4 linked regions of the Homo sapiens genome follow. The main gene of each other region encodes a partner of the protein of the gene in region 4 in a complex. Each region holds a gene or a part of one and is shown on either strand. Other genes may lie near its edges.

Region 1 (7,175 bases), on a different chromosome or scaffold from region 4:
CATCACTGTGTTGTCTTTTGGGTGGTCTCAGGTACAAGCCACTGTAGGTCATTCAACAATGTGCAATCACTGGGAAGGAGAGTTAACTTCTTTTTTTCTTCTTCTTCTTTTTTTTTCTTGAGACAGAGGCTCACTTTATCGCCCAAGCTGGAGTGCAGTGGAGAGAGCTCAGCTCACTGCAACCTCCGCCTCCCAGGTTTAAGTGATTGTCGTGCCTCAGCCACCCGAGTAGCTGGGGCTACAAGCGCACAGCACCACACCCTGCTGATTTTTTTTGTATTTTTAGTAGAGACGGGGTTTCACCATGTTGGCCAGGCTGGTCTATCTCAAGTGATCCGCCCGCCTTGGCCTCCCAAAGTGCTGGGAATGCAGGCATGAGCCATCGCCGCCCCCGCCCCTCGCCCCCCTCCCCCCCAGGAGAGTTAACTTCTAAAAATTCAGCAGCTGGGAAAGCTAACAGAGCTAAGAAAGCTGGCTTAGAAAAACAATTAGGTAGTCTAGGAAGTGTCAGAACTCCAAAAAGTGATTGGAGGTACCCTATCCAAAGCAGGGAAGGATGTGGTGGAATAATAATAAATACTGGCTGGCCATGCATCCAAGTACTTTGGAGCAAGGAGGGCAGCAAACATGATTCTGAGGACGGGGGAGGATGAATCATAGCATGCCCCTAAAGGATGAGCCAGAGCAGAAGTTCTCAAACTAATTGGCATGAGAACTACTCGAATGCTTTCGGAAAAAAAAAAAAAAAAGACAGACAGACTGTTGGGCCTCCATTTCCACGTTTCCGATTCAACAGAACTGGGTGAAGCCCAGTAATTTACATTGCTAACAAGCTTCAAGGAGATGATGCTGCTGATTCAGAAGACATTTTTGGAACCAATACACCAGTGTATTAGATCAAAGTTCTTGGCCTTTAACTTATAACCAAGACAGTCTCAGAGCCCCAGTCAACTGAGTTGGGAAAGACTCCATTAAAGTGGCATGGACACTTAAAACTAGGACACTAGCCGGGAGCGGTGGCTCACGCCTGTAATCCCAGCACTTTGGGAGGCCGAGGCGGGTGGATCACAAGGTCAGGAGACAGACACCATCCTGGCTAACACAGTGAAACCCCGTCTCTACTAAAAATACAAAAAATTAGCCAGGCGTGGTGGCGGGCACCTTAGTCCCAGCTACTTGGGAGGCTGAGGCAGGAGAATGGCATGAACTAGGGAGGCGGAGCTTGCAGTGAGCCGAGATAGCGCCACAGCACTCCAGCCTGGGCGACAGAGTAAGACTCCGTCTCAAACAAAACAAAACAAAACAAAAAACAAAAAACAACTGGAAGGACACTTACAGGTGGAAAGGCAACATTCAGAACCAGAGAACAAGAATTGAGGAACAGAGAGAACTCATCAACTGTATCATAGTAGTAATTTACAATAATACAACGCTAACGCTGTGCTCAGTGCCTCATCTGCATTATTTTTCTTTATACTCAAAAAAAGACAATACAGTGAGGCAGGTATTGTATTACTACCTACATGTTTCCAGATGATGAAGCTGACACTAGAGACTTTAGGTAACTTGCTCCAAGTGACAGACCTAATAATAGCTGGATAAAACAGAAATCTTTGGTCTACTAGTCCATCACCCAGGACCAACACAAGTGGCTTTCCTCCACCTACTGATAACGCCTGTAACAATGCTTCTCCTCTCCTGGTCAAAACCACACTTTTAATGTCAATTTTAAATCTGCCCTTCCATAGTAGGATGATAATTTATGTTAACTCCTGAATTCACAAGCAATCCTAAAACAAGGTAAGTCTAAATACAGATAAGAGGTAGGTTAACTGATCTGCTGAGAACCAAGTTTGCTTGCTTATCTGCTATTTCGAGTCTCTGCACATCTAAAAATGCAAAGGAAACTCTTACCTAATTCTTGCATCTAGAATAGCCTTTCTCCAAATCCTGCCTTCTCCACTTACCTCAGAAGAATTGTTAGGATTAAATGGAAATAGGTACCGTGGTTTTTGCAGTTAAACTCAGTGAAATTAACTATTATATTTCCGTTATATAATGCTGTGTTGTAGGACCCAGAGCTCGTTAGAGAGGTGGAGCCTGGAGACCCAAGTTTGGCAGTTATTACCTCACTGGAGATAGTTCAAGTTATGGAAGGATCAAGAATGACAGATGAAGCGGGCACATGAGAAGCGAAGTGTCTTCAAGACTAAACACTAGACACTATCAGTATTTACAGGGCAAATAAATGAAAAAGAAGACGCTAATGAAATTTAAAACAAATAGTCAAAGGGATATAATGCCGGCAAGAGGCATAAGAGTGCAAGTAATTCAACTAACTTTTAATCAACTAGATCTCATTAATCCCACTCCCCTGACCCTGGGACCCGGGCACTAGGAAAGGGGCTTTGGCAAGCCCCAATGGACTCCAGAGGCTCTAAGTATAAAACGCAGTGCACAAGAAACAACACAGCACCAGCGTTGGTGCAGGATTTCAGACAGCTCCAGGAACTTCACAAGGAAGGTCAGCCGGTCCGCTCAGGCAGTCAGTTCATGGCAGCCCATTCCCTCCCCACCTGCTTGGACCTAGCCGCTCTCACACCCCTCTTGCGGGCCCGAGCGTAGCGAGAAGACCCACGCACACTCCAATGCCGCTCACAGCCGTATCAGTGAGCCCGCACCCACTCCTGGGGGTCTTTTACTTCCCACCCGATCCGGCGACCCGCCACCCCCACTCCGCGTCTCTGCCTGCGGGGACTCCACGGAGTTCGATAATTACCTAGAGCTCCACCGCGCCGCCATTACACCGGACGTACGTCACTTCCTCTTCCCGAGCACCGACGGTAGGAAGAAGGCGAATAGTGAAATATTTAAAAACTTGACGCTCAATTGGCTTGACACGTTATCCCTTTAATTTATTTCAAATACCATATCATAATACCAGAGTCAAAGTAGTCGATCCAGGCACACTGTCTTGTTGCCAAAATGGCGACAAAAAAGAGAAGTTGGCATGAACTACAAAGTCCGAAATCCAGCGCCTGTGCTGACGGAAATGAGGAAAGCATAATTGTAGTTTAGCGTGAAATGGCGCGGTGTACGATGGGAATTGTAGTTCATACAGATGCGCGCCAGCGAGTTAACATCCACGCTGCTCACTGGCAGCCTAGTAGTGTTCAGGGTCTAGCCGAATTTACTTTAAAACTATTTCACTGCATTTTGGGGAAATTTTTTTTAAAAAAGCAGTCAGTTGTCACTTTCCTTGAAAAATCTTAAGAGAGAGATTTTCCTGAGACTTTATAAGAGTTTGACCAACAGTTAAGTGCCTAATAAATTCCAAGATATCCAGGCCATAAGAATGGGAGAATATTAAATCATAAATAGAGTGAAATAATGAGGAAAAACTAATTCTATAGAGACTGTGTTGCCTCTCTTTTAGGTTAAGGTACCAACTGGTATGACCTGAGAATAAAGAGATTGCCTGGCTGAGTAGGAAGTAGCAGTTTGTACAGCGTGCAGAACTAGGGCATCAAACAGTTTCTTTAAACTTCACTTTTCACTAGTAACAAAACCTAAAAGTTCAACTACTTGCTATTTTGGAAACTCTCTTCCTAAACCAAGAATATCTTTATGTTATCAAATCTTTCATAAACCAGGACTGGTTTCTCCACACACTTCTCTATTACAGTTTTAGGGTGCTGTGCTTCCACTCCTTTCTGGAGGCAGAGTGTGATGATTAAGAATAAAAACACTGCAGTTGGACTACTTATTTTGAATCTTGAGTCCTTTTATTATTTATGGATGACTGGGGCAAGTAACTTCACATTCTGTGGCCGTTTCCTGATCTGTTAAATGGAAATACCAATAGTATCCATCCAGGCAGTAGTTTTAAGAATTGAATTAGTTGATACACAAGATGCATTTAAGATAATTGCTAGTATACAATAGTGTTATCTATTTTATTTCATATTTAAGATATTTGGCCATTGTTGATGGTGCATTTTGGTGCACCAATACAGGGCACAGGAGATGGATCTGGAGATGAACATTTGTATTCATATATTTAAAAACCCACAATACTACCGGTGATGGTTAATTCTGAATGTCAACTTGATTGGATTGAAGGATGCAAAGTATTGATCCTGGGTGTATCTGTGAGGGTGTTGCCAAAGGAGATTAACAGTTGAGTCAGTGGACTGGGGAAGACAGACTCACCCTTAATCTGGTGGGAACAATCTAATCAGCTACCATCGAATATAAAGCAGGCAGAAAAATATGAAAAGGCAAGACTGGCCTAGCCTCCCAGCCTATATCTTTCTCCCATGCTGGATGCTTCCTGCCCTCAAACATTGGACTCCAAATTCTTCAGTTGTGAGACTCAGACTGGCTCTCCTTGCTCCTCAAGCTTGCAGACAGCCTATTGTGGGACCTTGTGATTGTGTAAGTTAATACTTAATAAACTCCCCTTTTTATATATATATCCTTATATATAGATATATATATTAGGATATATATATAAGGATATATATAAAAAATAGGATATATATGTAATAGGATATATATACGTGTGTGTGTGCGTGTGTGTGTATCTATCTATCTATCTATCTATCTATCTATCTATCTATCTATATCCTATTAGTTCTGTCCCTCTAGGGAACCCTGATGAATATACTACCTCTACAACTATCAACAGAAATAGGAAAGTTAGGGTTGAGCAGAGGAGAACTAGATGGAGCTGGAAAAGAATTGGATTTGTCAGTTGGGTCCTTCAGGAAGCAGACACTGAGAAAGAGTTATGAATAATAAAGGTGAAAGGAAAATGGAGGAAATAGTAGCTCCAGAATAAAGATGAAGAGGCCTACAATGGGATGAAATGGCTAGGCCCTTGTACCAGTTTTGCTCAGTCACTGGCTAGAGCCACCCCAAGAAGAGTGTGGCCTCAACTAAAAACCCAAGGTGGACATGAAGATTCAACAGTTGAAGGCTGTCACCTAACCACACTGCTTGCAGCTAGGCTACAAGCAAGTCCTTTCTTGAAGAGGTATCTGAGCAGCATCTCTCTGTGCCTGTCACAGTCTCCATACACCCAGTCTCCATACACCTTTCAGGAACAACTTTTCCAGGGTTCTAGTGCACATTTCTTCCTAAAAAAAATTTAGAAGTGGCAAGTTAGTGAGACAAACTACACTCCCCATCTTTGGGTCCTGAGGCCACACTGAATCCATTGCCTCTCTTCTCCACTATTCATTCTAAATTTCCCTTGCTGTCAGCTACTGCTCTACTGCTCTCTATGGTAAACTGGTGGTGTAAAAATCCTAATTCCTGGGAAGTCTGAGCGCCTGGTAGTGATCTTCTTTTCAGGCAGGTGCTGCTGCATTTTTTCATTGATGGTCACTATAAGGTAAGGGATTACCAAGAGATGCTAAAGTGGATCGCCTAAGTACCACATATATTCTTACTTGCTCCCATTGTGTAACAGCAAGCGTATCTCCTCCTGCTGTTTGGATTTAGCTACCTCTGACAAAGCATTGATTCCTTTCTTGCCTACTAGCCCCTGAACTCTAGAAGTCCTGTGTTTCCAGGCACCTGCTGAGCTTAGTTCAGTGGGACACTGTGTCCCCTAGCAAGAATATATCACCTTTGGGGATTAGGACCACCAATTCCACAGAGCTCAGAGTTGCAGGAATGGGAAATACTATGTCCCACCGCAGGTCATTGGGAAAAATGGTGAGTTAGGTTACATTCCTGTTTTCATCCCTTGTTTCCTGGATCCAAGTGTTGTTCTTACTAGGGACCCTGCATCCTGAGAGACAGTACCTCATTCTTGCAGAATATTGTCTTCTAGCTGATACTTTAACTGAATCTTCAGCAGGTCATTCCAGTGCTCTATTAGGCCACCAGCTTCTGGGCATGCAGCATGTGATACATCCAGTGGAACCCATGGTCACAGGCTTGTACCACCTTTGCTATGAAGTAAGTCCTGCTTGGATGTTATGTTGTATTATATTCCACACCTGTGGATCAAGCATTGTGGAAGTCCACAGATACTGGTGCTGGATGAGTCTTGGTGAGTATAAAATGTGAATGCATACCCCAAATAAATATTCCCATAAAATTGAACTGCTAGAATGGAAAGATCTCAATGTAGTCTACTTACCACCAAGTGTCTACTTGATCTCCTAAAGATACGGTGTCAAATTAAGGACCAGTCTCACAGGTTAAGCATTCAGATGAGGCAGTAAGTAAGTAGATCAGCTGTGGTAAGAGGGCTTTGTGCTGATGGGCCTGTGCACATATTCCATTTTTGCCACCCTGGCCATTTTGTTCATGTGTCAATTTTACCAGCACTTGAGGTAGCCACTAATAAAGACAGGTTGACATCAACTGAGTAATTTTTCTACTTTTTTTTTTAGTGCTTACTCCATAGATTATACTTTCTTGTGGACATTGATGTGTGATAAAAATATCTTCACACTTTTTGCTCACACCAATGTGTATATCCACATTCCTCCAAGACCCTCAGGATTCTTTATTTGTGATCTTCTAAACTCATTATTTTCAGGCCTCTGACCAGCCAGCCAGGATGTTTGTCATTTCCTGTAAGTATATTTATATTCTAACCCCGGGCAACTTCTCCCTCTACAGAAAGTGGATGACAAGGTGCATCATCCAAAGCTTTGCCCACTAGGAAGACTGTTTCTCTTCACTGTCTTCAAGGCTATTCTTTAATGAGATTGTAATATAAGCTGCTGCCCAATTTCAGCTTTCATCCACATACTTGGGCAACCCATTCGTAAACTAAGCTCAGCCATTTTTTTTCTTTCTTTAGCTTATTGATCAAGACCACACCTCTGCTCCATATGGTCACCAATATGAGCTGAAGGAGTATTGATGCAACTCTAACAGTGATGTAAGAGTGTATGCTGTCTAATCCTATAGATTGATTGTGATCTTCTTTGTGCTTCATCCCAAATGTAATTCTTTTATCTTACGATGGATTACAGTTCAGCTTCCCAGAACTTATAACCTGGTGTGTCCAACAAGCCAATTTTTTTTTTTTTAGATGGAGTCTCGCTCTATCGCCCAGGCTGGAGTCAAGGTACATTTTGTTTTGTGTCACTTAGTGTCCCACAGTAAGCATTTCCTCTTTACCAGTAGCATTAGAAGGGCCATTTTTC
Region 2 (7,038 bases), on a different chromosome or scaffold from region 4:
ATCTTTCTGAATTACAGACAAGATAGATGGTGTCCTCACAGGTTAAGAATATTCTCCAATTTTTTCCTTTAATCTCTACTGTGACCTTCTCCACACTCTAAGAATCTCTGCCATCATTATACTACCATTTTTATTTCCTATAAGAAAAAAGTCATCAACAGTATTCCCATGAGGATCAAAACTTCCATTATAATACAGGTACGGCCATTAAATACTGTACGACCACAATAAGTCCTGCCAGGAGGGGCAAAAATAACATATTTTATTTTTCTGTTTTTAAAATTCACATATAAGTCTGACATTTCTGATAATACCATACTCACCTTGATTGGCAGGGTACTGTTTATGAACATATGAATCCGTTGCATTCTGAGGACCCTTCTCTTTAAGATTTTCTTTTGAAGTAGGCATATGCAACACAGGACCATACTCATTACGAAGCTTGATTGCCATTTTTCGTTTGTGACTATTTAGAAATTATAAACATAAGAACGTATCCATAAATACTTTAAAACAAACACTTAGCTTAAGTTTGCCCATTCACGTAGAAAAAGTTTCTAGTATGATTTTAAGTAGTATTTAAAAGAATCAAAAATTTCCAAGGGCATTTCCCCACCATATCTGTTCTTTTGCTTACATTCGACCACACAGCATTCATTAAACCTACGTAATATTTTAGTTTGTTACCTAATAAATAGAAAACCTTTTATGATAAATTGTCAAGGGTCTGACTGAAAGATATACAGAAACTAACATACCCTTTAAGAAACCTCAAAGTCAATATACTTTCCTTCAAAATATAAATATAGTAAAAACTCTATAGCAACCTTTACTAGATGTATCCAAACAGGTTAGTTAGAACTAATCAAAGTACTTAATTGGTTCAATATCTTAAAAAGAAATGCATTTATATTACTTTTAAAAATAGTCTACTTTATAAATTAAATATAAATGCTTGTTTGAGGAGTTAAGTAGATTTTAAAAAGGTAAAGGACAAAGAAGGAACACTGCACATAATGCATTCCCAGACTGGAGCTGGATATGTAGAACCAAAAATATGCCACCACTCAAAAATCTTCATCATACTAACGAGAAAAGATGGGAGTAGAGGTACTAGCCAGGTACAATTTCAGCTCAGCAAGGCTCTGAGAGCAGCGGGAAGCTGAAAGCACATACAAAGTGATTGATTATAAAATAAAATACCTAAAAGGGACTCTCTTAATTACTGGGTATTTGTAAAATGCAATTAATTAATGGAACTTTTACTGTAAAAGGCCAAAAAAAAAAGTTAAATCAGCTTAAATTATGCCAAAACACCACTCATTATTGAATAATTAGCCCATGACTAGCTTATCTTTAAAGGACTCCCTCTCCCTGCTCTCTTCCCCTAGTATTAGAATGTTAAGTATTTTAGCAATTGAAAAAAAAAAACTACACCAACCTCTCTTCATCTAAAGGCACAGGTTTTCCATTATCAGCTACAAACATGTCATGGGTCCTCTTCAACGACCTGAACACAAGGGTGTGTACAGAATGTTTCTGTACCTCCTAAAAAAAAAGAATGTAATTACACACCTATCTACAAATTACACAAATCATAACCTAAAGTCAGATTGATTATACACTTCACGTGTTTAAATATGTAAAAAGCTTTATACCACTCACCATAGCTACTTGTTGCAAGCTACAGGAGTCAAGTTCAGAGAAGAGGAGGAAGCTCCTCTTTGGCTAGAACCTCAGGTTTAGCAACTGAGTGATGCCGGAGTTTAACTTACTCAATAAATATTTACTGAGCTCCTACTGTGTGTCTGGCAGGTATTGTGCTAGAATCTCACAATAGAATGATAAAAAGGTGGTCATGGTCCCTGTGCTCAAGAGGAAACAGACAAATAAAAAGTAAAATAATTCCACATTTTGATAAGTGCTATGAAGGCAACAAGCAAGGCGCTGAGTCAGGGAATGAAGGACTAAGTATAATTGTGAAAGATTTCACTAAGGTGATATTTAAGCAGAAAGGGAGTTAGCCTTGCACAAAACAGAGGTAAGAACGAACCAGGCTGATGGAAATGTCATGTAAAAAAAAGTTCAGTTAACTGAAATAATACAAGGAGCGCAGTACAGCTGTGTATGGAGGATGAGATGGTGCTTTGTAGCTGCAAGGGTAGACAAGGTCCAGATTAGGTAAGGTCTTTTAGACTATTACAACAGCCTATATTTTGTTCTAGCAACATAGGGTCAGTAAAGGGTTTTAAACAAGAAAGGTATGAACAACTTACGTTTTAAACAGAACAACTTATAGAACAAAATGGAAGCAAGGAAACCAACCAACGGGGAGCTAATGCACCAGTCCAGGTGAAAGATGATGTTGGTCTCAATTAAGGTGGACTGCAGCGGATATGGAGAAGAGTGAATGGAATCAATAAACATGTGGGGTAAGATGGACAAGACCAGCTAACAGCGTTGGCTGTTCATGCCAGGGAAAGATGTAAAGAACGGCAAGTTTTTCTGGGGGTAGAGGTGAAATAAGAGACGACCTGAACGCAAGATAGAGAAGACTACCAATCTTTTAGGGCACAGACTCACTGACACTGCCCCGAGGGCGGCAAGTACCAGTGGTCGATCACCAACAGAGGCCCCGCCTCCGAGGACACTTTCCAGCTCCCAAGAGTCAAACGAGGACTGGACGAATTATCTCAGGCTTCGCGCCCAGGCTGAACCTCCGACTCGGGTTCTCATCCGGCTTCTACCCCTTCCCCGAAAACCCGAAGAAGAGACCACTCGGCCTTGGCCAAATAGCTCCCCTCGTAGCCTCTTTTCTCTCTGGACTCCAAGTACTCTCAATCCCCCACGCGCACTGCCAAAAAAAACAGTCCAGAGACAAACGACTCTTGAGAGCCCCAGTGTCACTTTACCTCGACCATGATGCTACCGTGTATCCCACCTCCGGCAGGGAAGAAACTCTAATCACTAACGCAGTACCCGCCGCCACAGCTGTGCAGCACCTTCCGGAATTGGGCGCCCAGGCGGCGGATGTGATGCAAGCTCTGCGCACGCGCGCTAGTCTCCCTCGGCCATCTAGGATCAGGAGGCGGGTCTCCCTCCTCGGGACCGCCTCTAGGGCGGAGTCTCGAGGCTGAAAGCCGGAGACTCCTGGAAGGGCCTGGGTGGAGGGTTTCACTCGTCCCTCTGAAGAAATCTTAGAATTATGTTTTCTGCCTTAGTTGGGGTCCTGGTTGTTCGTGCTGTATTCCCCGGAAGCTTAACGCTTTTTATTCAGAGAACCTAAGCGTCTGGAGAGCAAACTCCCGTGGGCTCTATCTAAGGCATTTCCACTACCTTGATCTCTTTGGAGGTCGCCTGCGTGCTTTGTGTCTCCTGGTTCTAATCCTGGCGAGAAGCACTTGGACACTTGTAGGCTTAACACCTGAAAACAATTTCGCTTAAACAGTCCAGTAAACACTTGTTAAGTGAACGTTGAGGAATAGCTGTTTTAATTTGGAAAATTTTGACATGTAGTTATAACAAAACCCCATATTTATTTTCTGCTAATAGATTTTTTTTTTTAATTTCTCAAAACTGCATAGCTCTTGTCCATTTCCTAGTTGCCTGCTGATTATTGTGGCTTCAACAATGCCAGGGTACAGCTTTTCAAAGCTGGTAGAAGACACAATTGGAGACTTTAGCCATTTTTATTTATACATATCCTTGTGCCAAGTATTGGTATTTTTGCTTTCTACCCTGGTAAAATCTGTGGTTTGTGATCAACCCTACCCAATTATTTTTCTATGTAAAAAAAAAAATGGATGGACTTAGGCATTTACAAACTTAAATAGACAAACATTTTACTGGCCCTGTTTCAGTTTCACTAATCCTGTCCTGAGAGCATACTGCTTACACTTTGAGAGGGGGAAAAAATCTAGCAAAAGAATAGCAATATAAATCAACCTTACTTGGAAATTCATTAAAAACATTAAGGTCATGGGTTTTTGTTTGAGACAGAGTTTCGCTCTTGTCGCCCAGGCTGGAGTGCCATGGCGCGATCTTGGCTCACTGCAACCTCAGCATCCCAGGTTCAAGCTATTCTCCTGCCTCAGCCTCTGGAGTAGCTGGGATTACAGGCGCCCGCCACCATGCCCGGCTAATTTTTGTATTTTTAGTAGAGACAGCGTTTCACCATGTTGGCCAGGCTGGTCTTGAACTCCTGACCTCAGGTGATCCGCCCGCCTCGGCCTCCCAAAGTGCTAGGATTACAGGCATGAGCCACTGAGCCCTGCCTTAAGGTCATGTTTTTACTTGAAGATACAGCATCTCTGAATTTAACTGTGAGTTTGGCCTAAGAATTGCTTTTCTGTAAAGGTGGCAGGTGATGGTATTTCCTTGCAAGAAAATACCATAATTGTAAAATATATACTTGATGAACTAAATAATATACTCACCTATTAATAATAACTATAGAAAATAACATGATTTGAAATGACAATAAAACCATAGAAACCTAAGCAAGACTAATATATATGGCAATATATTAATTGTCTAGTTGGATCTATTAACTTTTTACATATTTAATCATCCTGGAGACATTAATTTAATTTCTCAATAACAACATGGTAATGATTGAGGTAAATTGCCTCGAATTTGCTCCTTTTAAAACACTGTCGTGAATTTATAGAATGATGTCATCCCCTTGAAAGTTTACAATATTTTAGATAAATATAGAACTCAAGTGACCCTATTATTTAGTTCAGGGATTCATGAATTATGTATATTGTAGGAAAATTTTGTATTTATATGGGAATATGTTTTATTTTCTGGAGAAAGGATCCACAAGTTTAATTGGATTCCTGAAAGGCTCCGTCATACACACATGGCCTGGCTGACACCCGAAGCTGCCTTATTTGAACAGCAGGTGTCACCACTGCTCTTTGTACGGGCCCTCAGGGCTGTCCTTAAAGCAGACACGGCAAGTAACTTATTAATATAAATTATTAGTATTATGTCTGTGTAAAACCAAGAATACAAGTTTTAAGGAAAGCCCTCCTTCTTTAGGCAAGATTTTTTAAACTCACCAATACAGAAACTCTTTTTATTCTCCTTCAAATATTGTCCTTTGCTCTTGAACAGTGATAGGTCATATGAGTATAGATTTGAGTGCCATTTTCATCAGCTTTTTATGATATTTTTATAGGAAGTGTTTTCTGATTCTTATAAAATAATAAATATTACTATTTATTTTTCTGTTTCAACTTAGAGGGTTAAATATACAAGCTTTAAAAAACACTATATGCAATGTTCTTTAGAGTTGTGTGGCTCAGTATGTCCATCCCTTAAATTTCATATTTGAAATTGTTCGTTAATTCAAAAGGAAGTAATCATGGGAGTTATCACTGTTTATTTGAATTTCTGAGGTCAAAACCTGTGAAAAATGATACTTGGACATTTCTTCCAAAACTTTGGTCTTTAATTGTTTAGCACAATGCTATGAATTTGCCTAAATACTAAGGTAGTGTTAGCAGATACTTTCTTGTAGCATAGTTGAAACAAGCTTCTGGGACTATAAGGAACAGTGAAGGGGCTGTTCTTCCTGTTAATGCCTGGAAAGACTTTGGGAATAATTAGATTGTACTATCAGTTATAAACTGTCAGTTATAAATATCTTAGCAAGGTGTATGTGTGTGTGTGAGAGAGAGAGAGAGAGTCCTCGGGTCTTACTTATCACAATTTCACCATCCTCTACTACATGAAGCCCCATCTCATGTGTATTAGTTTGCTAGGGCTGATGTAACAAAGTACCACAAACTGGATGGCTTAGACAACAAATGTTTATTGTCTCACAGTTCTGGAGGCAAGAGGCTTGAAATAAAGGCGTTGGCAAAGTTGGTTCCTTCTAAGGGCTGTGAGAGAGAATGTGTTCTATGCCTCTCCCCTAACTTCCAGTAGTTCTCTGGCAGTCTTTGCCGTTTCTTGTCTTCTGCTGCATCACTGTCATGTCTGCCTTCATCTTCACATTTCGTTCTCACTGTGCATATGCCTATGCCAAATTTCTCCTTCTTAAAGAACATCAATCATATTGAATTAAAGGCCCACCCTACTCCAGTATGGCTTCATCTTAACTAATTCCATCCAAAAATACCCTATTTCCAAATAAGGTCACATTCTTAGATACTGGGGGTTAGGAATTCATAATGTGAATTTGGGGGGACACAGTTCAACCCACAACACTATATCACAAAATAAGTGACAATATTGAACATAATCATGACTTTTGTTGTTTACCTTTACAAATAAGAATTTGTACTTACAAATATTTGCAGGCATTTACAAATGTTTTTATTTTACAGAAATATTTTTGGTGTTTATACTGCCACAGAAGAAATAACAATGTCTTGGTTCCAGCTTTCTTAGCTGAATGTTTTGTTGTAATATTTGTTTAAATATCTGTATTTCCCAGTAGACTTATGGGGTGAATATGGCATGATGTTTACTATCACACAGTCAGAATCTAATTGACTTGCAACTGGTAAGTTTTCAATATTTATTGAATGAATGAATAAGTAAGCTATTATATTGTACACTTAAATATGGGTTTAGGTGGCTTTGAGAGCTTAATTTTTTTTGAGACGGAGTCTGGCTCTGCCGGCCAGGTTGAAGTGCAGTGGCACCATCTCAGCTCACTGCAATCTCTGCCTCCTGGATTCAAATGATTCTCCTGCCTCAGCCTCCGGAGTAGCTGGGAATACAGGTGTGCACCACCACGCCTGGCTAATTACTTGTATTTTTAGTAGACATGGGGTTTTACCATGTTGGCCAGGCTAGTCTCGCACTCCCGACCTTAGGTGATCCACCTGTCTCAGCCTCTCAAAGTGCTGGGATTACAGGTGTGAACCACTGAGCCCAGCCGAGACTTTAATTTTGATTTGGAGTTGCAGCTACTGAACATGTAGGAAGGATGGTCTGTGAGTGTGTGTGTGTGTGTGTGTGTGTGTGTGTGTGATGTGCTCACTCCGAAAAGTTGCTATTTCAGTAACCATTAATTTAATC
Region 3 (6,900 bases), on a different chromosome or scaffold from region 4:
ATAGATGAGTGGTTTTCACACTTTTTGGTCTTAGGGCCCCCTTACATTTTAAAAAATTATTGTGCAAGCCAGGCGCAATGTCTGATGCCTATAATTCCAGCTACTCAGGAGGCTGAGGAGGGAGGATAGCTTGAGCCCGGGAATTAGAGTCCAGCCTGAGTAATATAGTGAGACGCCATTTCTAAAAATTAAAAAATTAAAAATAAATGAATAAATAAATTAATGAATAAATAAAAATGAAGGAACTGAGGCTCAGAGAGGTTAAGCTACTTTCCTAAAATTATCTATCAAGTTAATGACAGAGCTAGAATGACAATCCTGGGTCTTTTCACTGCTTCTGAGAATGCTTTTCACACTATACTATTAACAATGTCATTAATAAATATTTATTTTGACCTATTTATTCATCACTGGACATAGTGACTGGCATCACCATCTATCTGCCTGGCCTCCCAAGGTAGAAACATCAATGTCATCCTTAACTAATACTTGCCTTTCATCACCATACCAAGTGGTCAACAAAACTGCTTCAAAAATCTCTCTCACATCTGGTCTCACCTTCCTACTGCCAAAGATTTAAAATAGACCCTCAGTATTTCTCATCTGGGGTTATTGCAACAGTTTAACTGGCCTTCCTCGCTCTATTTCTACTCATCCTCCTCTTGGCATCTATCTTTCTAAAAAAATAAATCTGATTAACCCACTACCCACCTATGGCTCCGCACTGGCTAAAAGATAAAAACCAAATTAGCATTCAAGGGCTTTCTCAATCCAGCTCCCAAAGGAAATGTCTAGATTAATCTCCCTCTGCCACCTCTACATTTTGCTATCCTGAACTTTTTATTTTTCTTTGAACATTCCATGATCTTTTTCACACTTTATTCATGCTGTTACTTCTGCCTGAAATGCTCCCACCCCCCTACTATCCCATTCTCTGCTTGGAAAACTTGTATTCATCAACTATCACTCCCTTTGTGCTACCTTCTTCAGGGCTCCCAATGCATACTGTAAATATTGCTATAATAATACATAACCCTACTATAATATTATTCACCTCTTTAAATATCTGCTTTGCCTAAACCCTATAAGTCCTTTAAGGGCAAGGATTGTGACTTGCTGTCTCTGTATCCCCAGGAAGTCATTAGCATCCTACAGACCTTGACACATAGCAGGGGCTCATTAATGCTTTATTTAAAAACTATTACTTATAATTATGTAATTATTATCATAATTAGATAATGAAATATAGAAACTACAGATATAGTGTATTCGTATTTTCTTTCTTTCTTTCTTTCTTTTTTTGGAGACAAGGTCTCACTCTGTCGCCCAGCCTGGAGTGTAGTGGCGCGATCTCGGCTCACTGAAACCTCCGCTTCCCCAGCTCAAGTGATCCTCTGCCTCAGCCTCCCCAGTAGGTGGGATTACAGGCACATGCCACCATGCCCGGCTAATTTTTGTATTTGTTGTAGAGATGGGGTTTCACCACATTGCCCAGAATGGTCCTGTACTCCCGAGCTCAAGCAATCCACCCACCTCAGCCTCCCAAAGTGCTGGGATTACAGGCATGAGCCACCACGCCTGGCCCACCACAGCCCCTTTCCAACTGAAATTTAATCTTTTCTGATTTCCTATCTTTGTGTGTGTGTGTGTGTGTGTGTGTGTGTGTGTGTCTCACTCTGTTGCCCAGGCTGGAGTGCTGGAGTGCAGTGGTGCGATCTCAGCTCATCGCAACCTCCCCCTCCTGGGTTCAAGCGATTCTCCCGCCTCAGCCTCCTGAGTAGCTGGGATTACAGGTGAGCACCACCACGCCCGGCTAATTTTTGTATTTTTAGTAGAGACAGGGTTTCACCATGTTGGCCAGACTGGTCTCGTACTCGTAACCTTAGGTGATCCACTTGCCTCTGCCTCCCAAAGTGCTGGGATTACAGGGGTGAGCCACCATGCCTGACCCCTATTCGTTGTTAATACCTTTACAAACTCACCACATTCTGTCACTTGTAATCATTATTTGTGTCCCTGTTCATTTCTCATTAGGCCATAAATTACATGAGGACAGCAACCATATAGTTTAAGTTTCTATCTCCCAGAAAAGTTATCACAGTGCTTTAAATACAGCAAGCATAAAAATGTTGGCTAAATTCAACATTTGTTTGAGTGAGATGGAACAAGAAAACAGGGGCAGGGATAGGGGGAGTAACCCCATCAACTTCAATGCTGTACATTTTTACATCTATCCAATTTCCCCCATGCATGACCTGAAATACTTGGTGTAGAGTACCTGTTTTGCACAAAGGAGGCCACCTTACTGGAAAGAAGGCAGAGCATTGAGGAGGAACCAAGAGCAAGGAGAGGTGGGCACTTTAGGAACTGAGAACTAAAAATCAGCTCTCCATTAGTTGCTGTAAACGTTTAATCACTCTCAACATAAAATTTTCTGTGTGGTTAATAGAGTCAGACAGACCTGTTTGAATCCCAAATCTGACGCTCATTATTTGACCTTAGCCAAACTGGTTAACCAATCCAAGTCTCAGTTTCTTCATCTGCCAAAAGGGAACGATAAATGTATACTTGATACAGATGTGAGGGTGAAATGAGCTAACGTATGTGAAGCCCTCAGCACAGTGTCTGGCATAATAAAATAGGAGCTGTTCCTCTCCGTTGGAATAGTAGGGCAGGACTTGTGCAACACTGTGATGGGAAAACAAAGATAAAGGCAGAACAGAGTGCAACACATTAGGAACATTTCAGGGGAGGTTACCTAGAAGGGCCACTACATTCTTCTCAGGACTAAATCCCTCCTGACTGTTGTCTTCACCCCAATCCTGGAAAACTCACCGTCACCCCATATTTGAGTGCTAGTCCAGCCAGGGTGTCTCCGGGCTCCAACTGATGCTCCAGGCGTCTTTCCCTCACTGGGGAGCAGGCCGATTGCACCAGGCTTCCATATGAACGAGCCCGGCTCCCTTGAAGCAGTCCTGACCCCCCTGGCGGGGGCTGTCTAGACGGGGAAGCCATCTCTTCACCCTGCCAACAGCTAAGGTTGCAACTAGGGGAGGTACGACCGAGACTGCGACTGACAGGCCTGAAGTCTGGGAATGAATATTCAGGGGATTCCTTTCCCCCTCTCTCTTCCCCTGTGTCCCCGCCTCCCCAGCACTACGCCATCTGCCCCCTCCCGGTTTCTCCTCCCTCCAAGCTACTTATCCACAAATCTGTCCCTTGAGTATTCAGTCCCTCCCTAATTCTCCCCTAAGCACCCCTCCGACTTTGGACTCCCCCACAACTCCTCGCTACATTGACCTCTGACCTTTGAACTCTAGAAATAATCCTCAACACTCTTTCCTCAGTTTGCCCCCAAGTAGCCTGGCCTCAGGGCGCTCCAACATCCCAGCTCTCCCCGGTCCCGGGGTTTGTTTGCTAGAGTCAGGAACAAATCAGGCCCACCCCAGGTGAACTGTCGCCGCAGACGAAGAGCGTGAGGATTGCAAGAATTTGTAGTACACCTTCCACTCAGAGATCCTCAAAGGTCCGCTCCGCATAAGATAGGTCACACCCTCAAATTTCGGCTCCACATCTAGGTTGTTGTCCCTCCAAACGCCTCAGATCCGCCAAGATGCAAGGGCCTGGATCCAGTTGAGCGGCAAGGTCTTTGAGAAAAGACTTCATTTCCCAAAAGGCTCCGCGTCTGCGGAGTCGCAGGGCACCATAGGAAATGCAGTTCCCTCCGAGCACCAGAGAGTGGATTTCCGGATCGCGCAATGCATGCGTGGAAGTGCGTCCCCGGAAGTACGGAGGCCGACAGGAAGAGAAGGAAAAAAGAGAAGGCGCTGTCCCGCTCTTGCTACGGTGGCCTGGAGGAGTGGCGAAACCGGAACAGAGAATTTATCACTTCTGGGACTCACAGTCGTGATGTCTTTCAAGAGGGAAGGAGACGATTGGAGTCAACTCAATGTGCTCAAAGTAAGCGTGAGCGGAGAGGATCTGGAGCCGCTTCAGTCGCTCCCTGAAGGTTGGGAAGGAGCTTTGTTTCATTGCTCTGGCAACAACTCGGGGGTGCAGGAGAGAACCAGGCGACTTAGAGCTGTGTAGTGACTCCTTTTTCGGTCTATGATCGCTGTTCTCCCCAGGGTCCTTATTCCATTTCACTCCTCATTTCTATAATTTCACTTCCACCCCTCTCTCCTATCCCGCTGATCCCGTCCGGATTTCTTCCCCTACTCCCTGCAGAAAAGAAGAGTCGGGGACCTCCTAGCCAGTTACATTCCAGAGGATGAGGCGCTGATGCTTCGGGATGGACGGTAAGAGCAAGGAGTGGCTCAAGCCTGAGGGTTCTGCGGTTAGAGGCTCAATAGACTTTTTTTTTTTTTTCCTTTGAGACGGAGGTCTCGCGGTGCTGCCCAGGCTGCCCTCGAACTCTAGGGCTCAAGTGATCCTGCCTCCTCAGCGTCGCGATTAGCTGGGTTTACAAGCGCATGCCACCACGCCTGGCTTCAACAAACTTTTGTTATTAATTAGGACAGCAGGAGTACCTAGGATTCTTTGGCGGCCAGTGAGGACTGGAAGAAGTGGAGATTGGGTCACCAGGGAGTTGGGTTTTGCAAAGACTGCTAGGACAGGGTGGGACCTATGGCAGGGACGGGCCCAACCCTCTTCCCCTGGACCACTTATCCTCTTCTCTACCCCTGCTCAGCTTTGCTTGTGCCATCTGCCCCCATCGACCGGTACTGGACACCCTGGCCATGCTGACTGCCCACCGTGCAGGCAAGAAACATCTGTCCAGTAAGTTAGGGGGAAGACGGGATGGGGAATAAACCCTCGAAATCTCTGCACACCACTCTTGGTGCTATGCTTTTAATTCTGTTTCCCTTTCTCCTCAGGCTTGCAGCTTTTCTATGGCAAGAAGCAGCCGGGAAAGGAAAGAAAGCAGAATCCAAAACATCAGAATGAATTGAGAAGGGAAGAAACCAAAGCTGAGGTAATCAGAGAGTGGAGAGTGTGTTCTAGGCAAGACCCTGCTGCACACACCAGGCTGGAAGGGCGGAGGGCTGAAGGCTCTGACTCTGTCTCCCATCTCCTTACCAGGCTCCTCTGCTAACTCAGACACGACTTATCACCCAGAGTGCTCTGCACAGAGCTCCCCACTATAACAGTTGCTGCCGCCGGAAGTACAGGTATGGGACGGGAAAGCCAGAGGTAGGAAGGCTCAGAAGGAGACAGATGGCTCTAAAAGAGTTTTCCAGTGTGTATTCTGAGGAATACTAGTGTTCTGGAGATGTTACTTAGTGTTTCAAGAAAAGGAGAATTTTGGCTGGGCGCGGTGACTCACGCCTGTAATCCCAGCACTTTTGGAGGCTGAGGTGGGTGGATCACTTGAGGTCAGGAGTTCAAGACCAGCCTGGCCAACATGGTGAAATCCTGTCTCTACCAAAAATGTAAAAAATTAGCTGGGTGTGTGGTGTGTGCCTGTAATCCCAGCTACTCAAGAGGCTGAGGCAGGAGAATTGCTTGAATCCGGGAGACAGAGGTTGCAGTGAGCCACGGTCACACCACTTCACTCCAGCCTGGGTGACAGAGTGAGACTCCATCTCAAAAAAAAAAGAAAAGAAAGAAAAAGAAAAGGAGAATTTTGTGATTTTTAAATAAAGTTTGGGAAATGGCACTTTGTAATTCTACTTGAAGAATAACAGTTTTAAAAACTATACAAAGTCTTAAGATTAAAAAAAACTTGTAAAATTTTAAGCTAGCCTTTCCCAAATTCATGATTCTGAAATCCTTTGTATGCAGAACTTATTAATATCTTGAGAAATATAGTTTAAGAAGCACTGTTTTAAGAGGTTGGGAGTCATAGGAGAGTTGGCCCTTTCCCTTACTGCTTTTACAGACTATTCTTCTCTACCTAGACCAGAAGCCCCTGGTCCCTCTGTCTCCCTTTCCCCTATGCCACCCTCAGAGGTCAAACTCCAAAGTGGGAAGATCAGTAGGGAACCTGAACCTGCGGCTGGCCCACAGGCCGAGGAGTCAGCAACTGTCTCAGCCCCTGCACCCATGAGCCCCACAAGAAGACGAGCCCTGGACCATTATCTCACCCTTCGAAGGTGAGTATGCCTAATCAGTTTCCTCAGATTTTCTTTTCTCTCTGACACCCTTGTTTCAAAGCTATTGTTTTTCCTTTTTTTTTTTTTGAGATGGAGTTTCACTCTTGTTGCCCCAGCTGGAGTGCAATGGCACGCTCTCGGCTCACTGTAACCTCCACCTCCTGGGTTCAAGCGATTCTCCTGCCTCAGGCTCCCGAGTAGCTGGGATTACAGGCATGTGCCATCACGCCCGGCTAATTTTGTATTTTTAGTAGAGACGGGGTTTCTCCATGTTGGTCAGGCTGGCCTCGAACTCCTGACCTCAGGTGATCCACCTGCCTCAGTTTCCTAAAGTGTTGGGATTACAGGTGTGAGCCACCGCACCCGGACTCCCATTGTTGTTTTCCATCTTTGGTTTCGTTTTGTTTTAGCCACCCAACTTACATGGCTCTCAATTTTTTCTCACTGCTAACTTTTTTTTTTTTTTTTTTTTTTTTTTTGGTAGAGACAGGGTTTCACTATGTTGGTCAGGCTGGTCTCGAACTCCTGACCTCAAGTGATCCACCTGCCTCGGCCTCCCAGAGTGCTGGGATTACTGGTGTGAGCTCACCACTAACTTCTTAATAAGCCTCTTTCCTGATCGATGCTATTTTCTCTGATGTTTCCAGCTCTGGATGGATCCCAGATGGACGAGGTCGATGGGTAAAAGATGAAAATGTTGAGTTTGACTCTGATGAGGAGGAACCACCTGATCTCCCCTTGGACTGATACCCTTTTCCCATTCATTCACAAATAAATTACAATGGGTGCTGAGAACTTAACTTTC
Region 4 (7,027 bases):
TTTTCTTTTTTTCTTTTTTTTTTTTTTTGAGATGGAGTCTCACTCTGTCACCCAGGCTGAAATGCAGTGGCACGATCTTGGCTCACTGCAACCTCCCAAAGTGATGGGATTACAGGCATGAGCGACTACACCCGGCCAGATCGTTGCTTTTGTCTGTAATGCAGCCACTAGAAACAAACCCCAAACTGGGACCACTCTCAGGTTTATATCTTTTTGTTTGTTTGTTTTCTAGAAGTGGATAGATTCATGCATGAAGTTTGGAATGCATTGAGTAATTCAACATTAATCAAGTAACTATTATGTGCCATTGGCACTGGGGGAGCACTTTGATTGTTTAGGACCATCTTCAGCATTGTACAATGTTTAGCATAAGTGGCACTACCTATAAATCCCAGTAGCGTCCCCATCCTACCCCCATTGTCTTAACTAGAAACACCTCACACATTTACAAAGGCACTGGGAGAGAGGAGTTAGAGGTGGCAGTGATGCCCTGTTTGACAATCACTGATTTTCCTGTTTTAGAAGAAATAGAAATGGACTGCATAATATATAAAATAGGATTTAAAAAATTTGTTATTCCAGAGACTGAACAGGTTATTGGATTTATGAATTTGGACTAAGATTTCTGATTTGCTTCCGAGAGGTCTGGTATTCTTCAGAAACGAGGGAGTTCTCACTGAAATATTAATAGTGAATGAGTAAGAATGGAAAATACTAGGTGTTAGGTATAAGAGGTGAGAAGAATCAGTGAGGATTCTAAGACGTAATATTCTAGGACAAGTCTAAGGCAATTCTCTACATGTGAAGTAAGTACTGTGTATACGACTTATTAGTCATACAAAATTGGGGATGAAAAAGTTTTTTTTAGTGTAAATCTTGATACAACCAAATGCTTTTTTTTTCCTAATTATGAAAGTGATAAATCTTTTTTTTTTTTTGAAACGGAGTTTTGCTCTTGTTGCCCAGGCTGGGGTGCAATGGCACGATCTCAGCTCACCGCAACCTCTGCCTCCCGGGTTCAAGTGATTCTCCTGCCTCAGCCTCCTGAGTAGCTGGGATTACAGGCATGTGCCACCACGCCTGACTAATTTTGTATTTTTGGTAGAGACAGTGTTTCTCCGTGTTGGTCAGGCTAGTCTCCAACTCCCAACCTCAGGTGATCCACCCACCTCGGCCTCCTAAAGTGCTGGGATTACAGGCATGAGCCACCACACCCAGCCAAGTGATAAATCTTGAAATAAAGGGCTTGGTGTATGTATTTTTCCCTCTGAAATAGTTATGTAAGAAATACTACATACAGGCCAAGTGCATTGGCTCATGCCTGTAATCCCAGCACTTTGGGAAGGTTGAGGTGGGAGGATCATTTGAGGCCAGGAGTTTGAGACTAGCCTGGGCAATATAATGAAACCCTATCTCTTAAAGAAACGAAATGTTACACACGTACTATACCCAAAAGAATGCCTTCAACGTATTACCCCTAAAAAACCGTAACAACTTTAAACTGACCCCATGATAAATTATATGTTATCTTGTTTGTATGATTTCACACACTAGCTAAGCTAGATTAGCGTTTTCTTTCTACCTCACATAGTGAATGTTTTGACAGGCTTATCCTTTTAGTCAGTCTAGTTCTTTGCCAGTTTTCTGTAATAAAATATCTGTTTCACAGATGAGTTACTACTTTATCTTGTTGACAAAGCTTATTTGTGCTTCTGATACTTTCAAGAGTATATTGTATTTTTCAGAAAACGCTCCCCAGCCCATTTGCCTCCTGGTACTCAGTTTCCTCAGCACATTTAATTCTCAGACTATAAAAATTTGGGGTTTTGGCCAGGTGCTGTGGCTCACGCCTGTAATCCCAGCACTTTGGGAGGCCGAGGCGGGTGGATCGCCTGAGGTCAGGAGATCGAGACCAGCCTGGCCAACATGGTGAAACCCCATCTCTAATAAAAATACAAAAATTAGCTGGACGTGGTGTCATGCGCCTGTAATCCCAGCAACTTGGGAGGGAGGCTGAGGCAGGAGAATGGTTTTAACCCGGGAGGCGGAGGTTGCTATGAGCTGAGATCACGCCATTGCACTCCAGCTTGGGCAACAAGAGCAAGACTTCGTCTCAAAAAAAAAAAAATGGGGGGTTTTATAATTAATTACTATGGAGGAATCTTGCTCTTCAGATGTCCTTCACTCAGCCTTGTGAGATACTAGAATCTTATTGATGCTCATTTGAAGGGTTATTAACTTTGGAATGCCCAAATAAGGAGCAGCAAATGACTCTTGTATGCTAAATTAGTATTGACACTTTATGTTGAACATACATGACTACCAGGGAGCCATTTACTTAGAATCCTTTCCTTATAACCGTTGCTATGGAGAAGTGATAAACTCCTCATGATTAACTCTTCATAGAATTGGTATTTTTTTCTTGTGTTGTTATATAATTTTCAGCTTAGGGTTGTATAGGTTTTTCCATGCTGAGAGGAAATAAGACTTTTGAGGTCAGATAGTAGCTGTATGATCTTAATGTACTGAACCTCACTCTTTTCAGTAGAGTGAGCTTTATGGTCCCTTCCAAAATCAACACTCTTAGAGTATGGTGACACTAATAACTCACATATCAGTAGTACGTGTTTTGTGCTAAATCATCTTAGGCTTTCTTACCTGATCCCTCTTCTCACTCCTGAGAAAAACAAGCTGGAGATTTTAGTGTATAGCCATGAGATAGTTTTTTCTGGGAAATCAGTAGCTTATAGAAAGTTCTGTACGGCCTAAAATATAAACTTATTTATTTATTCATTCATCCATCCATTCTTTAAAATAGAGATAGGTCTTGCCATGTTGCCCTGGCTGGTCTCGAATTCCTGGGCTCAAGCTATCCTCCAACCTTGGCCTTCCAAAATGCTGTGATTACAGGCGTGAGTCACTGTTCATGGCCTATAAACACCTTTAGCATGTAACAGAATATCTCTAAAATTCATTTATTTATTCATTTGTACAAAAAATATTGATCAAATATCTCCAGTCATTATTATAAAGCACAGGAGACACTTTTTTTTTTTTTTTTTTTTTTGGAGACAGTTTCACTCTTGTTGCTCAGGCTGGAGTGCAATGGCATGATCTCGGCTCACTGTCACCTCCGTCTCCTGGGTTCAAGCGATTCTCCTGCCTCAGCGTCTCATGTAGCTGAGATTACAGGCACCCACCACCATGCCTGGTTAATTTTTCTGTTTTTGGGAGAGACGGGGTTTCACCATGTTGGTCAGGCTGGTCTTGAAATCCTGACCTCAGGTGATCCACCCACCTCGGCCTCCCAAAGTGCTGGGATTACAGGCGTGAGCCACCGTGCCCTCCCCGTTTTTATTGTTTTAATACGGGAGACAGATAATAACCATGTAAAGTAGATAATTTCATGCTGTGAACAGTCTTGATCACAGTAAACAGTGCTATGGAGCAAATGATTGGGTGGGGAGGGGTTACTACTAAGGCAATCAGAAGAAGCCTCGATAATGGAGGACCTTTGATCTGAGACACACAGATTGAGAGCTTACTTGAAGAATGATAAACAGAACTCTGTAAAGGCCTAGAATTGGGGAAAAGTATGTTATGTTCAAGAAACAGAAGATGAGCTAGTGTGACTGAAGCATAATGAGTGAGAGAGTGAGAGTTGTAAGGGGAGATTGAAGGCATAGGCAAAGTCAGGTCAAGTTGCATAAGCCATAAAGTGGCTCACACTTTTTTGCTCTGTTTGGAGTAGAAAATTAGAAATAGCATGCATTTCCTTTAAACTTTTTTAATGAATGATGTATGATAGACTTATTAATATAAGACTTTGGCTTGTAGTGGTAAACAGTTCTACAAAAAAAAATTCTGGAGATCTCAAGTGCCTAGGAATTTGATTTTCTTTGATATTTATAAGTTGTCCTTTCTTTTTATGTACCTCAAAGAATTTCTGACTAAAGCATTAAAGGTAGAATGCCTATTATTTATTGAATTTTCTGTATCTCTCTCTTTTTTTTTTTTTTTTTTTTTTTAATATACAGTGTCTTGCTCTGTCACCCAGGCTGGAGTGCAGTGACGCAATCTTGGCTTACTGCAAGCTCTTCCTCCCGGGTTAAAGCCATTCTCCTGCCTCAGCCTCCCGAGTAGCTGGGACTACAGGCGCCTGCCACCACAACTGGCTAATTTTTTGTATTTTTAGTAGAGACGGGGTTTCACCATGTTAGCTAGTATGGTTTCGATCTCCTGACCACATGATCCAGCCACCTCAGCCTCCCAAAGTGCTGGGATTACAGGCGTGAGCCACCGCGCCCGGCCCCTCTGTATCTCTTTTTTACTTTAAAATATGCCATGTAAATTGTTATGAAAATATTTAAGAAGTATAGATGGACCTGAAAGTAACCAGTATTCTATTTGTTAAGAGCCTACCACATCAGTGTCAGCCTAATAGAAACCATGTTGGGCATAGTAGAAGTCATATAACAGGCCTCAATTTGGATAATGGATATAAAATAAGTTGTATATATAGAATATATTTTTCTTTTTCTTTTTTTTTTTCTTTTGTCTTCTCATGGAAGAAAGCATTCTGGGTTTTTTAACTGTGGCACATGTTTATTTTCTTAGTCTGTGAATAGAGTTGATGGCAGAAAAGAGAAGCGTTATAAATAGGATGAGGTCAATAAAATTTTTCAGGCCCAGTGAATTTGGAAATTATTTGGTAACCTGACTTAAATTCTGATGAGTTTGTAATCCAGGTTAATGGTGCTATAGGCAATTTGTATTATCATTAATTTCAAGTTTTAGTGGGCCTCAAAAATAGTGATCATCAATGCATGATTTTGTTGGCATGGTTTATTTGGATACTAACTTGATTAGAAGATCTCAAACAATTTAAATGCATGAGGTCAAGGGAAAATTACTAACTTACAGCCAGGGTAGCAATTTGTTTATATATTTTAAGCTTCCTTGGTTTTAAAATCTAAAAGAGAAAATCTGAGTGTCCTAAATTTTTAAGTGTGCTGAGAGGGCATGTTGACATCTGAAATGGCTAATGAGGTTTCTTTTCGTTGTTTGCTTTTCTTAAGCCTGCTTGTGTTTGAACATTTTAGGTCATTTATAGCAAATACACTGACCTGGTTCCAAAGGAGGTTATGAATGCAGATGATCCAGACCTGCAAAGGCCCGATGAAGAAGCTATTAAAGAGGTAACTGGGAATTGATATATTCGATGACTATTTACATCCTGATTAACTTCCAAACTCTCAATGTGATATTTCCTATTTCAGATAACAGAAAAGACAAGAGTAGCCTTAGAAAAATCTGTATCACAGAAGGTCGCCGCAGCCATGCCAGTTCGAGCAGCTGACAAATTGGCTCCTGCTCAGTATATCCGGTATGAATCATGCCTAGAAGACTTAGTTTCATTCTGAACTTGATTCAGCTTGGGGGGTCATGGTATTCTTTCACTAACCCACTTAGCAACCATTATAAATGCATTGTTTTCAATAATGACTCAAAGCCTGTCTACTGTCTTTGCAGACAATTGAAAGCAGAATTTTTTAAGGTGTCCACTTTGGTTTTTGTTTGTTTTCTGAGATAAAGTTTCTGTGTTGCCCAGGCTGGAGTACGGTGACACCAACACAGCTCACTGCAGCCCCCACCTCCTGGGCTCAGGTGATCCTCCTGCCTTGATGCCACCATGCCTGGCTAATATTTTAATTTTTTGTAGAGACAGGGTCTCGCTGTGATGCTCAGGCTGTTTTCGAACTCCTGGGCTCAAGCAGTCCTCCTGCCTTGTCATCCCAAAGTGCTGAGATTACAGACTTGAGCCACCAGACTTGGCCTCTTTTTATGCTTTTTTTTGGGGTGGGGGACAGAATCTTGCTCTGTTGCCCAGGCTGGAGTGCAGTGGTGTGATCTTGGCTCACTGTAACCTCTGCCTCCCAAGAGATTCTTCTGCCTCAGCCTCCTGAGTAGCTGGGATTACAGGTGCCCACCACCATACCTGGCTAATTTTTGTATTTTTTTTAGTAGAGACAGGGTTTCACCATGTTGGCCAGGCTGGTCTCGAACTCCTGAACTCAAATGATCCATCCTCCTCAGGTCCCAAAGTGCTGGGATTATAGGCGTGAGCCACTGTGCCCAGCCTATGCTATTTTCTTTTTTTTTTTTTTTTTTTGAGATGGAGTCTCACTCTGTCACCCAGGCTGGAATGCAGTGGCACAATCTTGGCTCACTGCAACCTCTGCCTCCTGGGTTCAAGCGATTCTCCTGCCTCAACCTCCTGAGTAGCTGGGATTACAGGCTTGCACCACCATGCTCAGCTAATTTTTGTATTTTTAGTAGAGACAGGGTTTCACCACGTTGGCCAAGGCTGGTCTCAAACTCCTGACCTCAGATGATCTGCCCACCTCGGCCTCCCAATGTGCTGGGATTACAGGCATGAGCCACCCGGCCTGGCCCTATGCTATTTTCAAATTATATTTTTTGTTTTTAGAAATTAACAGTTACTTGTGGTATATGACCTAAATCACAATTATTATTTATAGTTTTCCATTTATAAGTAATAGATATCTTTATAATACTTCTAAATTTTGAGGCGTTTTACTTGACTAAATCTGCATAGAGAATTGAATCACATACAGATATTGAGGAAAAATTCAGAGCTGGTAGGGCTGCTGTCATTATTCTTTTCTCTGTTTTATAACCTATGATTAATCAAAAACTGCTAACCGTAAGTTGCCTGCTGGGATTATTATGAGTGTTTTTTCCTCAGATGCAGGCATACTAAATAGGTACTATTTTCTAGACTGCTTATCTGTGAAACTGAACACGGCACCTTCCATGTTGGAAAACATATGAGGATGGGTTATTTGCAAACTAATACCACTCAAGTTTATATTTTGACTGTAACTCATAATTTATGTTCTTTTATCCCTCTTGCTGTCTGCTTTGTCTAAATATTTTGTTAATTTTCTGTTAATACTTTGCGAAAGGAATTGAAAATGTAGTCTAGCTTAAGATTGTAATAGAA

What was found.
Region 1: SNW1 (region 4) and CWC22 share a complex: the UniProt entries of both Homo sapiens proteins name them as parts of the minor spliceosome.
Region 2: SNW1 (region 4) and PLRG1 share a complex: the UniProt entries of both Homo sapiens proteins name them as parts of the minor spliceosome.
Region 3: SNW1 (region 4) and SCNM1 share a complex: the UniProt entries of both Homo sapiens proteins name them as parts of the minor spliceosome.

What each region holds. Positions count from the first base shown.
Region 1 is NC_000002.12:180,004,291-180,011,465, forward strand, and holds the start of CWC22 (pre-mRNA-splicing factor CWC22 homolog), read right to left. Parts: upstream 3,008-7,175; 5' UTR 2,577-3,007; intron 1-2,576. UniProt on the Homo sapiens protein: Required for pre-mRNA splicing as component of the spliceosome. As a component of the minor spliceosome, involved in the splicing of U12-type introns in pre-mRNAs. Promotes exon-junction complex (EJC) assembly.
Region 2 is NC_000004.12:154,547,388-154,554,425, forward strand, and holds the start of PLRG1 (pleiotropic regulator 1), read right to left. Parts: upstream 3,014-7,038; 5' UTR 2,922-3,013; coding exon 2,913-2,921; intron 1,549-2,912; coding exon 1,442-1,548; intron 467-1,441; coding exon 324-466; intron 1-323. UniProt on the Homo sapiens protein: Involved in pre-mRNA splicing as component of the spliceosome. Component of the PRP19-CDC5L complex that forms an integral part of the spliceosome and is required for activating pre-mRNA splicing.
Region 3 is NC_000001.11:151,162,244-151,169,143, forward strand, and holds the start of SCNM1 (sodium channel modifier 1), read left to right. Parts: upstream 1-3,900; 5' UTR 3,901-3,909; coding exon 3,910-3,960; exon of another isoform or gene 3,961-4,009; intron 4,010-4,227; coding exon 4,228-4,298; intron 4,299-4,690; coding exon 4,691-4,779; intron 4,780-4,877; coding exon 4,878-4,975; intron 4,976-5,082; coding exon 5,083-5,171; intron 5,172-5,900; coding exon 5,901-6,095; intron 6,096-6,742; coding exon 6,743-6,842; 3' UTR 6,843-6,900. Other genes in the region: LYSMD1 (lysM and putative peptidoglycan-binding domain-containing protein 1), read right to left, coding at 2,836-3,015; TNFAIP8L2-SCNM1 protein, read left to right, coding at 4,282-4,298, 4,691-4,779, 4,878-4,975, 5,083-5,171, 5,901-6,095, 6,743-6,842. UniProt on the Homo sapiens protein: As a component of the minor spliceosome, involved in the splicing of U12-type introns in pre-mRNAs. Plays a role in the regulation of primary cilia length and Hedgehog signaling.
Region 4 is NC_000014.9:77,737,137-77,744,163, reverse strand, and holds part of SNW1 (SNW domain-containing protein 1), read left to right. Parts: intron 1-5,102; coding exon 5,103-5,198; intron 5,199-5,279; coding exon 5,280-5,386; intron 5,387-7,027. UniProt on the Homo sapiens protein: Involved in pre-mRNA splicing as component of the spliceosome. As a component of the minor spliceosome, involved in the splicing of U12-type introns in pre-mRNAs.